3 linked regions of the Homo sapiens genome follow. The protein of the gene in region 3 purifies or fractionates together with the protein of the main gene of each other region. This does not show direct contact. Each region holds a gene or a part of one and is shown on either strand. Other genes may lie near its edges. The genes, in order: AKAP8, NUP155 and ASH1L.

The links.
Region 1: the proteins of ASH1L (region 3) and AKAP8 purify together in Homo sapiens (affinity purification with western blotting, with the first as the bait; one study listed by BioGRID). This does not show direct contact.
Region 2: the proteins of ASH1L (region 3) and NUP155 purify together in Homo sapiens (affinity purification with mass spectrometry, with the first as the bait; one large-scale study listed by BioGRID). This does not show direct contact.

What each region holds. Positions count from the first base shown.
Region 1 is NC_000019.10:15,366,179-15,369,898, forward strand, and holds part of AKAP8 (A-kinase anchor protein 8), read right to left. Parts: intron 2,145-3,720; coding exon 2,057-2,144; intron 1-2,056. UniProt on the Homo sapiens protein: Anchoring protein that mediates the subcellular compartmentation of cAMP-dependent protein kinase (PKA type II).
Region 2 is NC_000005.10:37,364,563-37,368,282, forward strand, and holds part of NUP155 (nuclear pore complex protein Nup155), read right to left. Parts: intron 1-3,720.
Region 3 is NC_000001.11:155,560,004-155,564,053, forward strand, and holds the start of ASH1L (histone-lysine N-methyltransferase ASH1L), read right to left. Parts: upstream 2,801-4,050; 5' UTR 2,150-2,800; exon of another isoform or gene 2,039-2,149; intron 1-2,038. UniProt on the Homo sapiens protein: Histone methyltransferase specifically trimethylating 'Lys-36' of histone H3 forming H3K36me3. Also monomethylates 'Lys-9' of histone H3 (H3K9me1) in vitro. The physiological significance of the H3K9me1 activity is unclear.

The sequences.
Region 1 (3,720 bases), on a different chromosome or scaffold from region 3:
TAAAAAAAAAATGTCATCTCTATACCCTTCTCCCAGTACTCTGGGAGGCCAACGCAGGAAGATCTCTTGAGGCTAGTTCAACAGCCCAAGCAACAGAGAAAGACCCCTATCTCTTTATTAGATTATTTAAGTTTAAAAATAATTAAAAAGAAAATGTCATCTCAGTTTCCATGTGACATGAAAAGTCATCTACTCTATCCATTTATCTGTTTAAAATAACAAGGGTTTCAATGTTCCTGTACCACTTAAGAAGAAACAGTTCTGCGTTTGGTTCCTGGCTTCGTTTTGCTAAGCATTTCTCTCTTTTTTTTTTGAATCCTTGATTTAAGGTTCACATGGAACAGTGATTTTCTTTTTTTTTTTTTGTTCCTGAGATGGAGTCTTGCTCCGTCGCCCACGCTGGAGTGCAGTAGCACAATCTCGGCTCACTGAGATGGAGTTTTTATTTGAGATAGAGTTTCGCTCTTGTTGCCCAGGCTGGAATGCAGTGGTGTGATCTTGGCTCACTGCAACCTCCACCTCCTGGGTTCAAGCAATTCTCCTGCCTCAGCCTCCCGAGCAGCGGGGAATACAGGCATGCGCCACCATGCCGGACGAATTTTGTATTTTTAGTAGAGACTGGGTTTCTCCATGTTGGTCAGGCTGGTCTCGAACTCCCAACCTCAGGTGATCCGCCTGCCTTGGCCTCCCAAAGTGGTGGGATTACAGGCGTGAGCCACTGCCCCCAGCCCGTTTCTTTTTCTTTTTGAGACAGAGTCTTGCTCTGTCGCCCAGGCTGGAGTGCAGTGGTGCAACCTTGGCTCACTACAAAGTCCACCTCCCCAGTTTAAGTGATTCTCCTGCCTCAGCCTCCCGAGTAGCTGAGATTACAGGCACCTGCCACCATGCCTGGCTAATTTTTGTAATTTTAGTAGAGATGGGTTTCACCATATTGACCAGGCTGGTCTTGAACTCCCGGCCTCAAGCGATCCGCCAGCTCAGCCTTCCAAAGTGCTGGAATTACATGTGTGAGCCACGGCATCTGGCCCCTTTTACTAAGCATTTCTTTGAACACGACAATCACTGCCCAGACTGGGCGCAGTGGCTCACGCTTGTAATACCAGCACTTTGGGAGGCCAAGGCGGGCAGATCACAAGATCAGGAGTTTAAGACCAGCCTTGCCAACACGGTGAATCCCGACCTCTACTAAAAATACAAAAATTAGCCAGGCGTGGTGTCAGGCGCCTGTAATCCCAGCTACTCGGGAGGCTGAGGCAGGAGAACCGCTTGAACCTAGGAGGCAGAGGTTATAGTGAGCCGAGATTATGCTATTGCACTCCAGCCTGGGCGACAGAGCAAGACTCCATCTCAGAAACAAACAAACAAAAAGAAAATCACTGTCCCATGTGAACCTTAAGGTCAAGGATTCCCCAGCATCACATGATCACTGGTGATTTCAGTTTCTAGTCAGAAGCCACTTAACTCCTGGCAGGGAGAGGCAGGCACATGGTGTGCTCACAATGACATCCTTTGGGCTCAACATTTTTGCAATCCTTTTCTATTGTGGGACAAAATCTTGATGGTAGGATCATCTCTCTACCTGTCTCCTAGCTGTGTCAAACTCCAGGGGTGGTCTGGATTTGGATAAGGTGAACACAGGACAGTGTCTGAGATGCCAGACACCAGGCTAGGGGGCAGGGATGCCCCTCAGGCCTGCAGGAGAGTAACAGAGCCCGCTGCTGAGCAGTTATGGACCACACAGACCCACCAGCAAGGCTGGGATTCCAGAGGAATAGAGACACAGGAGTCAAACACCAATCCTCTAAAGCAAGAACAGAAACCTAACCACCAAAGCAACGTCCCAGCCATCCTAGAAGACAGGTAGCTCGTGTGCTGGGAGCACGAGTGATGGTCTTTTCTGCACTCCCAATTGTTTACTGTTTTGCCTCCCACTGGTTTGGCCAGAGGAGTCAGGCCACCAGGCCCCCAGCATTGTGGAGCGAGGACAGGTGAGCTCGGCAGCGCCTCCACCGCACGAGTCCACCTCCTCCTGTGGGGTCGTGTGCCCGCGCCTCACCTGTCGGCTGCACGGTCCCGCGTCCTGTCTCTTCTCCTTTGCTTTTCCCTTCTCTTCTTCACATCCTCGTCCTCGTCCTCCTTCTCTCCTGTAACAGACAAGTCCCTTCGAGACGCTCTGAGTGGCCTGCAAAGGAGCTGAGCTCCAGGGCCTGGTCGGGGGGCTGCAGCTTGGCCACCGCACCCTGTGCCCTGCCACTGCCTGCACCACGCGGCAGGGTCCAGGATGCCCCAAGGCACTGTCAGAGACTCCTGGTGGACACGGGCCTGGAGTGAGAGCCCGGAGTAGTCACCAAACTCCCCACATGGCCTGAGGCGGCCAGGATGGGCTAGGGACACAGCCTGCCCACCCCATGTGCACCACAGCCCCCTGCTCCCTCTGTCCTCCCCATTCTGCTTGTCCAATCTCATGCCCTGCGATGGGGTCTTCTCCCAATATCACAGGAGAAGCCAATTCTCCCCGGATGAAGAGGCGGCAGCTGAAGGCCTCAGGAAGTGAAGCAGCTGCTCCGCCGCCCTCTATCCCACCTCTAGGTGGACTGTGACGAGCGTCCTGGCGGCCCCGTCTGAACTAGGGCCTCAGCAGGTCTGACAGTCCTTGCTGGCCCGACCTCTATCTTCCACTCACAAAAACCGTCAATCTAGGGCTTTCCCAGGGCTGCGTGGGAAGCAATCCTAGAAAAAAATTTGGGAAGAGACCAATTGGTCCTCCCGTCCGTCCCCCGGGGCCAGCAGAGGAGCTCCTCGGAGAGCCACGCGGCCATCATCCCAGCATGAGGCCAGGGACGGACGCTGAAAAAAGGTTGGAGAAGCATCTGAACTGTAACCCCTACCCCTGATGCCAGTCCCGAGACTGTCCCACGAAGATGGCGACCGGCGTGCGCTGCTCAGAAGCCTCTCAAAAGGGCGTGTGGGATTTTTGGCAAGAGGTCACTGCCTGAAACTATGACTGCTGTTTAATAGCAAAGTCATCCCGGGTAGGTAGCAGGACCTGCGCGCAACAGACATGTCACCTTTGCTTTAGCATTGTGCCGCTAAGCGCTCGGGGCGCCCCGTGCTATGGACAGGACTGCTGCGGGTCGCGGGGGGGAGGACCGCAGAGGGCTGGCAAAGCCTGAACAGGAGGAACATCTAAGCCAAGGGCCTTCAGAATGGATGGGAGCAGGGCCACTGAGGAGCCAGCCTATGATCCTTGGGGTAACCAGCTACGGAAAGACCCACAGGACAGGTAAAGAAACGAGTGGCTTCAGGGTGAGCTCCAGGCCGCGGCACCTCAGGCCGCTCTGCCATGAGGGATTTAAGCCTGCTCTGCTGTTGCTGCAGACCCTCTGGTCTCCTGCATTGGACATGAAGAGACCTGCTGAAGGGCGCCCGCCTCTCAAAGACCCAGTGGGCCTGGGTGCTCCCGACCCCGCAGGTGTCTGCTGTCACACACTCGCAGGCACGAAGCAATGTGCAGTGCAGCTGCCAGTATCCCCACCACAGAGGCCCACAGCACAGCCCAGGGCAGGCGACTGAAGGAACTGGACAAAAGGAAGCCCCAGAGAAAACACTTCAGGGAAATGCACTGGCCGAGGAGGGCACAGAAGATGGGCTGGGGGCCTCTTCTCTCATGTTTCTCCTTCCCTACAAACTTCGACTGTGGTGGACACCCAAGGCTGCCCC
Region 2 (3,720 bases), on a different chromosome or scaffold from region 3:
TACTGGTTTCAGGCCTAAAGGGAAAGTCATATCTCAAAAAACTTGCTCTGTAACAAAGGAAATGTTTATTTTATTTTATTTTTTTTTTTTTTGAGATAGAGTCTCGCACTGTCGCCCAGGCTGGAGTGCAGTGGCACAATCTCGGCTCACTGCAAGCTCCACCTCCCGGGTTCACGCCATTCTCCTGCCTCAGTCTCCCAAGTAGCTGAGACTACAGGCGTCCGCCACCACACCCGGCTAATTTTTTGTATTTTTAGTAGAAACGGGGTTTCACCGTGTTAGCCAGGCTGGTCTTGATCTCCTGACCTCATGATCCGCCCGCCTCGGCCTCCCAAAAGGCTAGGATTACAGGTGTGAGCCACCGTGCCCAGCTGGAAATGTTTAAATTTGATAATTTAGTGTTATTTTAAAATAAAAGTGGCTGGGCGCAGTGGCTCAAGCCTGTAATCCTAGCACTTTGGGAGGCCGAGGTAGGAGGATCATGAGGTCAGGAGTTTGAGACTAGCCTGGCCAACATGGTGAAACTCCATCTCTACTAAAGACACAAAAAATTAGCCTGCCTGGTGGCGTGCGCCTATAATCCCAGCTACTGCGGAGGCTGAGGCAGAACTGCTTGAACCCGGGAGGCGGAAGTTGCAGTGAGCTGAGATTGTGTCATTGCATTCCAGCCTGAGCGACAGGGCAAGACTCTGTCTCAAAAATAAATAAATAAATAAATAAACAAAATGAAAGCATGTAATTGTATTGTTTGTAACACAAAGGATAAATGCTTGAGAGGATAGATACCCCATTTTCCCTGATGTGATCATTTCACATTGCATGCCTGTATCAAAACATCTCATGCACCACATAAATATATACACCGTTGGGCGCGGTAGCTCACGCCTGTAATCCCAGCACTTTGGGAGGCAGAGGCAAGCCGATCACAAGGTCAGGAGTTCAAGACCAGCCTGGCCAAAATGGTGAAACCCTGTCTCCACTAAAAATACAAAAAAATTAGCCAGGCACAGTAGCAAGCACCTATAATCCCAGCTACTTGGGAGGCTGAGGCAGGAGAACTGCTTGAACCTGGGAGGCGGAGGCAGCAGTGAGCCAAGATCGTGCCACTGCACTCCAGCCAGGGTGACAGAGCAAGACTCTGTCTCGGGGAGAAAAAAAAAAAAAAAAAAAAAAAAAATATATATATATATACACACACACACACACACACACACACACACACACACACACAGACGCCTACTATGTACACACAAAATTAAAAATAAAAAAATTTAAAAATAATAATTTAGTGTTTTTCTATCATTTTGCTAATCTGAAATGGGAAAATATAAAACTGCTTTGGGGCTCAAAGGTAAAATGACTATAAGCAAACAAAATAATGACTGGGGGAAAATACTGCCTTTACCAGCTAAACATTTATAGATTAAAACAACCCATGACTTTTCCCTTTAGATTTATCCCCAAGACCACTAAGACAAATACAAATAATACCCCACAAGCAGTATCTTATTGGGGGGATAAAAACAAAGACTGCTCTATAAAGTGTTCTCATGGGCAACCTTTCTCTTGCTCTAAGACTCCATCACTAAGGACAGGAGTGGGCTGGTCTACTCAGCCTACCCTTGCTCCCGGACAAGGCGTTATTTAGACCTGACTGATGACCTACTTATCTCAGGCACTTTCTCAGGTTCTATAGAGTACAAAGATGTTAAGGAAAACTGACATATAAAACAATCTTGAAGTGTATTATGGAAATTTTTAAAATATATATAAGAAAAATACAATAAATACCCATGTACTGATTATCCAACTTAATAACCAGTAATATCCCCAATCATGTTTCATTTTTATCATTGTTCACTCCTTCCCCAATTATCTTTTTATTTTTATTTTTTGAGACGGAGTCTCGCTCTGACGCCAAGCTAGAGTGCATTGGCGCGATCTCAGCTCACTGCAACCTCCAATTCCCTGGTTCAAGGGATTCTCCTGCCTCAGACTCCCGGGTAGCTGGGATTACAGGCATGAGCCACCACGCCCAGCTAATTTTTGTAGTTTTAATAGAGACAAGGTTTCACCATGTTGGCCAGGATAGTCTCAATCTTTTTTTTTTTTTTTTTGAGACGGAGTCTCACAGGCTGGAGTGCAGTGGCCTGATCTCAGCTCACTGCAAGCTCCACCACCTGGGTTCAGGCCATTCTTCTGTCTCAGCCTCCCAAGTAGCTGGGACTACAGGCGCCTGTTGCCACGCCAGGCTAATTTTTTTATTTTTAGTAGAGACGGGGTGTCACCGTGTTAGCCAGGATGGTCTCGATCTCCCGACCTCGTGATCTGCCCGCTTCGGCCTCCCAAAGTGCTGGGATTACAGGCGTGAGCCACCGTGCCCGGCCGGTCTCAATCTCTTGACCTCGTAATCCGCCTGCCTTGGCCTCCCAAAGTGCTGGGATTACAGATGTGAGCCACTGCACCCGGCCGAACTCTTTTTCTCTTTTTTTTTTTTTCCTGAGACGGGGTTTCACTCTGTCGCCTTGGCTGGAATGCAGTGGTGCAATCACAGCTCAGGGCAACCTCAGCCTCTTGGGCTCAAGCAATCTTCCACCACAGCCTCGTGAGTAGCTAGGACTACAGTGTCATGACACCATGCCTAGCTAATTTTTTTTTTGTTTTTGGGGTTTTTTTTTGGGATGGGCTCTCGCTCTGTCGCCCAGGCTGTAGTGCAATGGCGGCTCACTGCAACCTCTGCCTCCCAGGTTCAAGAGATTCTCCTGCCTCAGCCTCCCGAGATGCCAGGACTACAGGAGTGTGCCACCACACCCGGCTAATTTTTGTATTTTTAGTAGAGACAGGATTTCGCCATGATGGCCAGGCTAGTCTCAAACTCCTGACCTCAAGTGATCCACTCACCTTTGCCTCCCAAATTGCTGAGATTACAGGAGTAAACCACCGAGCCCAGCCAAACAGCATTTTTCTTTTTCCTTTTTTTTTTTTTTTGAGACGGAGTCTCACTCTGTCGCCCAGGCTGGAATGCAGTGGCGCGATCTCGGCTCACTGCAAGCTCCGCCTCCCGGGTTCACACCATTCTCCTGTCTCAGCCTCCGGAGTAGCTGGGACTATAGGCGCCCGCCACCACGCCCGGCTAATTATTTTGTATTTTTAGTAGAGATGGGGGTTTCACCATGTTAGCCAGGATGGTCTCATCTCCTGACCTCGTGATCCGCCCACCTGGGCCTCCCATTTCTTTTGAGAAAGAGTCTCCCTCTATTGCCCTGGCTGGAGTACAGTGGCGCGATCTCGGCTCACTGCAACTTCCGCCTCCCTGGTTCAAGCGATTGTCCTGCCTCAGCCTCCTGAATAACTGGGATTACAGCCATGAGCCACCACACCCAGCTAATTTTTGTATTTTTAGTAGAGACGGGGTTTTACCACGTTGGTCAGGCTGGTCTTGAACTCCTAACCTCGTGATCTGCCACCTCAGCCTCCCAAAGTGCTGGGATTATGGGCGTGAGCCACCGCACCCAGCCACTTTTTGTAGAGACAGGGTTTTGCCATGTTGCTCACTCAGGCTGGTCTCAAACTCAAGCTCAAGTGATCCACCCCACTTCCAGGTCCCAAATTGCTAGGATTACAGGCATGAGGCACAGCGCCAGGCCTTTTTTTTTTTTTTTTTTTTTTTTTTTTGAGACAGGGTCTCACTCTGTTGCCCAGGCTGGAGTGCAGCGGCGC
Region 3 (4,050 bases):
AATACTGCAGAAATAAGTTTGCAGATGATAAAAAGAATAAAAAACATGGACCCTAAAGTTCTCCTGTCAACATGTTCAAATACCATAGACTCTTTCATCTTAAACTCATACTAACATCCACACACCCGAACAATGAAAATGAAAGGTTTTCAAATGAGACCTAAATATAAATTGGCTCTATTTTATTACATTTTAAGTTCCTAAAATCATATATATAAATCATGTGATTGTGCTTATGCTCATCTTCTAACTTGAGGGCCCAGTGTCTTTCATCAGATTCTCAAAAGGATAAGTGACCCCAAAAAATTTTAAGAACCACTCATCTAGCCTATCAAGAAACATCCCATTTTTCAGAAGAATACGGTTAAGTGGCTTAGTTTATGCATTCTTTCTTCATATTCATAGAGGGGATTCTTACTATATGAAATGAGTCTTTCAAAGGATTCCTTCAGCCCAGCCAAGAAGTTCCAACATCCACAGGCACATGTATTAACAATTACCAGAACCCAAAAACAGTTCTCTGGTTTTAATTCCACACCGCCTCCCTCAACTTAATACCCACCACTGTCAAAACAACTCCCCTCACGTTGTACCCAGGCTATTTACAGAGACACCTTGATTATCCTCACGCCAAGGCATGGACCATTTATTGAACAGGCAGTCAACAAATATTTGTTGAATGAATGAAAAAGGATCCTTCCTCCCACAGATTTCAAGTTAAGCTGTCAGCACCCATGCAGCTGCTCTGGTACAAGTTAAGCTGTGAAAGCCTTCTCTCCCTCACACATACAACCTCAAGTGTCAGAAATGCTCTGCTTCCTCCATAAATCCAAAATAATATAGTCATGGATATGCATTTCATACAGGTCAGACTCGGCAAGGACAGCTACGTTCCACATACATATCTGACACAATCGGTCTCCCCCAAATACAAGCCAACCAGTCTTATGTGCTCCTATCTTTCCAGCATACTCAGATTTGCCGACAAAGACTTCCTGAGGCACCATGGTATGCTGAATATACTGCTGCAGTAGTAGTGAAAATATGGGAGTTACAGTTCCAACTTTGTCACCAATTTAACATGCGGCCTTGGAGAAGTTCTCTCCTTATGCCTAAATTTCCTATTTTGTAAAATGGAAGAAAGCATCCTACCATTTTCACAGAGATTCAGTATCACAAAAAAACTGAAAGAGCTTTCTTATTGTATTGTAAACTATTACTATAAACCCGCGACAACAAATAAGGCCACCCATTCTTTACAACTTTGTAGTAATGATTCTGTTAAAGATATTTTGGCCCTTCACATTTACACAACTCACTCTAACCAAAGGCACAAACTATTCTTAAGACCACAACTGGCTATGCCAAGTTTCTCCCCTCCCTGACCTCACAGACACATGCTGTACAGAACACTACCATTGCCGCTCTTTCCCAACAAGTAACTAGGGGCTCCCAATCCCTAAAATACACACACATATCAACCTGCAAGGAACCTCCCAACATTTATTCAAGAAATAAGCTAACTTATAAGGGGAACTCCATTACACTTACACAAATAAAGGCAAACTCTTACGGAAACACTTGCCATCCTCACATACACACACCAACACAGCCGCTACACACCAACAGACCATCTGTCTGCTAGACCAAAAACATCTCTTTCCATGTACAAACTAACCAGTGACATTTATTAAACTTACAACACTGAGATCATCCTGTCGTTCCCACATACCGTTCAACGCGGCAGGGACACCACAGACCTTGTCACACAGGTAAAATCCCCTCTCAAGATCGTGTCCTCGACCACTCTTATCCCTTAATTAAACACACACAAACTGGACTATGGGGGAGGCTCCGATCATGCCTACAAACACAAACTAACCTGTCAGGGGCACAGCCGACTCCGCCTCCACTCGCTTACTTCCCAGCCCCCTCCGGGAGTCTGCCTGTCAGGGACACCCCTTCACCCCGCCTGGAGGGACTTCCCGGTAGGCTCAGGATCCCCCTCCCTGCTCTCCCCTCCCCCATCTTCACCACTGCTCTCTCAGAGATCCAGGTCCGGGAGATGACAGTGGCTCCCAGAAAGCCCAGGATTCAATCGCTGAGAGAGTGCTTAGGCCCGAATGCCGGCCCAAATCGTTCTACTCACCGTGTCGGAGGCCGAGGCCGAGGCCGAGAGCGATGAGAGTGCAGGGAAGTGGGGAAGAGGGGGTGGCCGCCAGGCTCCTCCGCTTCCCTGGGTCCACGGCGGATCCCTCCCGCTTGTCAGGAGGCGGCCAGCGGGTAAGCTGACTGGCGGAAATGCGAGAGAGGAGAAGGGAAAGGTGGAAGGCTAAAGGGGGCAAACTGAGGGGAGGCGGGTCCCGCAACCGAGACTGGGATCGTCTCCCCTCCGCAAAGCGAACCCAAAATGGCGGCGGGAGCGGCGGCGGCGGCGGCGGCAGCAGCAGAGTGGCGGCGGTGGCGGCGGCAGCTCCTCCAGAGGGAGGGAGCGAAGGGCGCCTAGCGCCCCCCTCAACCTTCCACTCCTTCCTCCTTGCGTTCTTTCCCACCGTCCCCCGCTCCGCCCGACTCCGTCCGCGTAGCGCGCACGCCCGCCCGCACGCGTACGAGTGTCTACGGGCTCGTCGCTGGCTGCTCCCACCAACCACCACCTTCGGCCGCCCCGCGCGCCAGCCAGCCCGTACGCGCTCACCCACAGGAACCCCCTCGTCCAGTCCCTCACTACCCCTCAGGCCCTGTCAAGCCGGCGCCGGCGCAGGCCCTCACGCGTACCTTCAACGGCGCAAGCCCAAGCCTCCTCCTCCTCCTCCTCCACCTCCTCTTCTCTCCTCCCCCCCCTTCCCCGCCCCCACGGCCACCAACCGCCGCCACGGCCGCCGCCGCCGCCGCCAGCCCCCCCTACCACCCTCCACCCCTCGCGCGTGCGCCTCCCACAATCCCCCCCGCGGGACTGTTCCATTCCTGTCGGCTGCAGGGGCAGGAGAGGAAGGGACGGGCCGAGCGGGTCGGGGCTTGCCGTTTGACTGGAATTGCCAGAATGGCGGACCGAGCCCCACGACAACCTACCTCCCTGGGCTCCTCGCCGCAGCGCTGCGGCTCGCCTCCCTCTGCTCCTCCTCCTCCGCCGGATCGCGGCGAGCGGATCGAGGACTGCCTAGCGCCCCTCTGCCCACCGGTGGTTGGAGGCCGCGGCGGCTGCGCGTTGAGTCGTTTCCTGCCGGTTGACCTGAGCCTACTTCGCAGTAGCAGGACCGCTGCTGTGGAGCTGGTCGCAGGCGGTGTGTGCCGGTCGCCTAGTCAGGAGAACTAGTCCTCGACTCACGGTGAGGGAATGGACCGACACGGGTATTGTACCGCTGAGGGAAAGGAGCGGGACTCCGGACCTCCAGGAGGTAGGGAGTGAGGCCAGTAGGACCGGCGCGCCTCCGGGGGGATTCCTCCCGGGCGTTGAGTTGCCAACCTGGGACCCGAGGAAGATCGGCGTGGTGGTGTGCTTTTTGTTGTTGTTAACCCTCCTCGGATTTCTCGAATTTCACACCACTGTCCATATGCGATGATGTTTGTTTGCCCTTGACGCACTTACTCATGGATGGTACTTCTTCAGCCTCGTTAGACAGCCTGGTGATGGAGGATGAAGAAACCATGTGCTTTTCATTCAGTTCTGGACTTAGTCTCCCTTTTCTTCCTTCAGCAAGTTATTTTTGTTAGTTCCTTATCAAAAAGTGTACATAAAAATTAGGCAACTCCAAACATGCCTCCAGGGTTAATGTGTGAAATAATAAGATAATATATGTAAAGTGGAATTAGCTCCTAGGCATAGGGAAAGTGCAGAATATTGCCGTGTTGTCATTTACAGTTCTGTTGATGTCGATAACGTTTGTGGGTGTAATTGGTAGTGTTCTGTCCCTCCAAGGAGTTAATAAAACAAAGCAAACATAGGCCTGTTAGGTTTCTGTGGCTACTGAATATTTGTTTCTCAAAACACTTGACTGATATTTGATAATTGAATGCAGCAGAAATACGGACGATTAAAGTCCACAAATAATT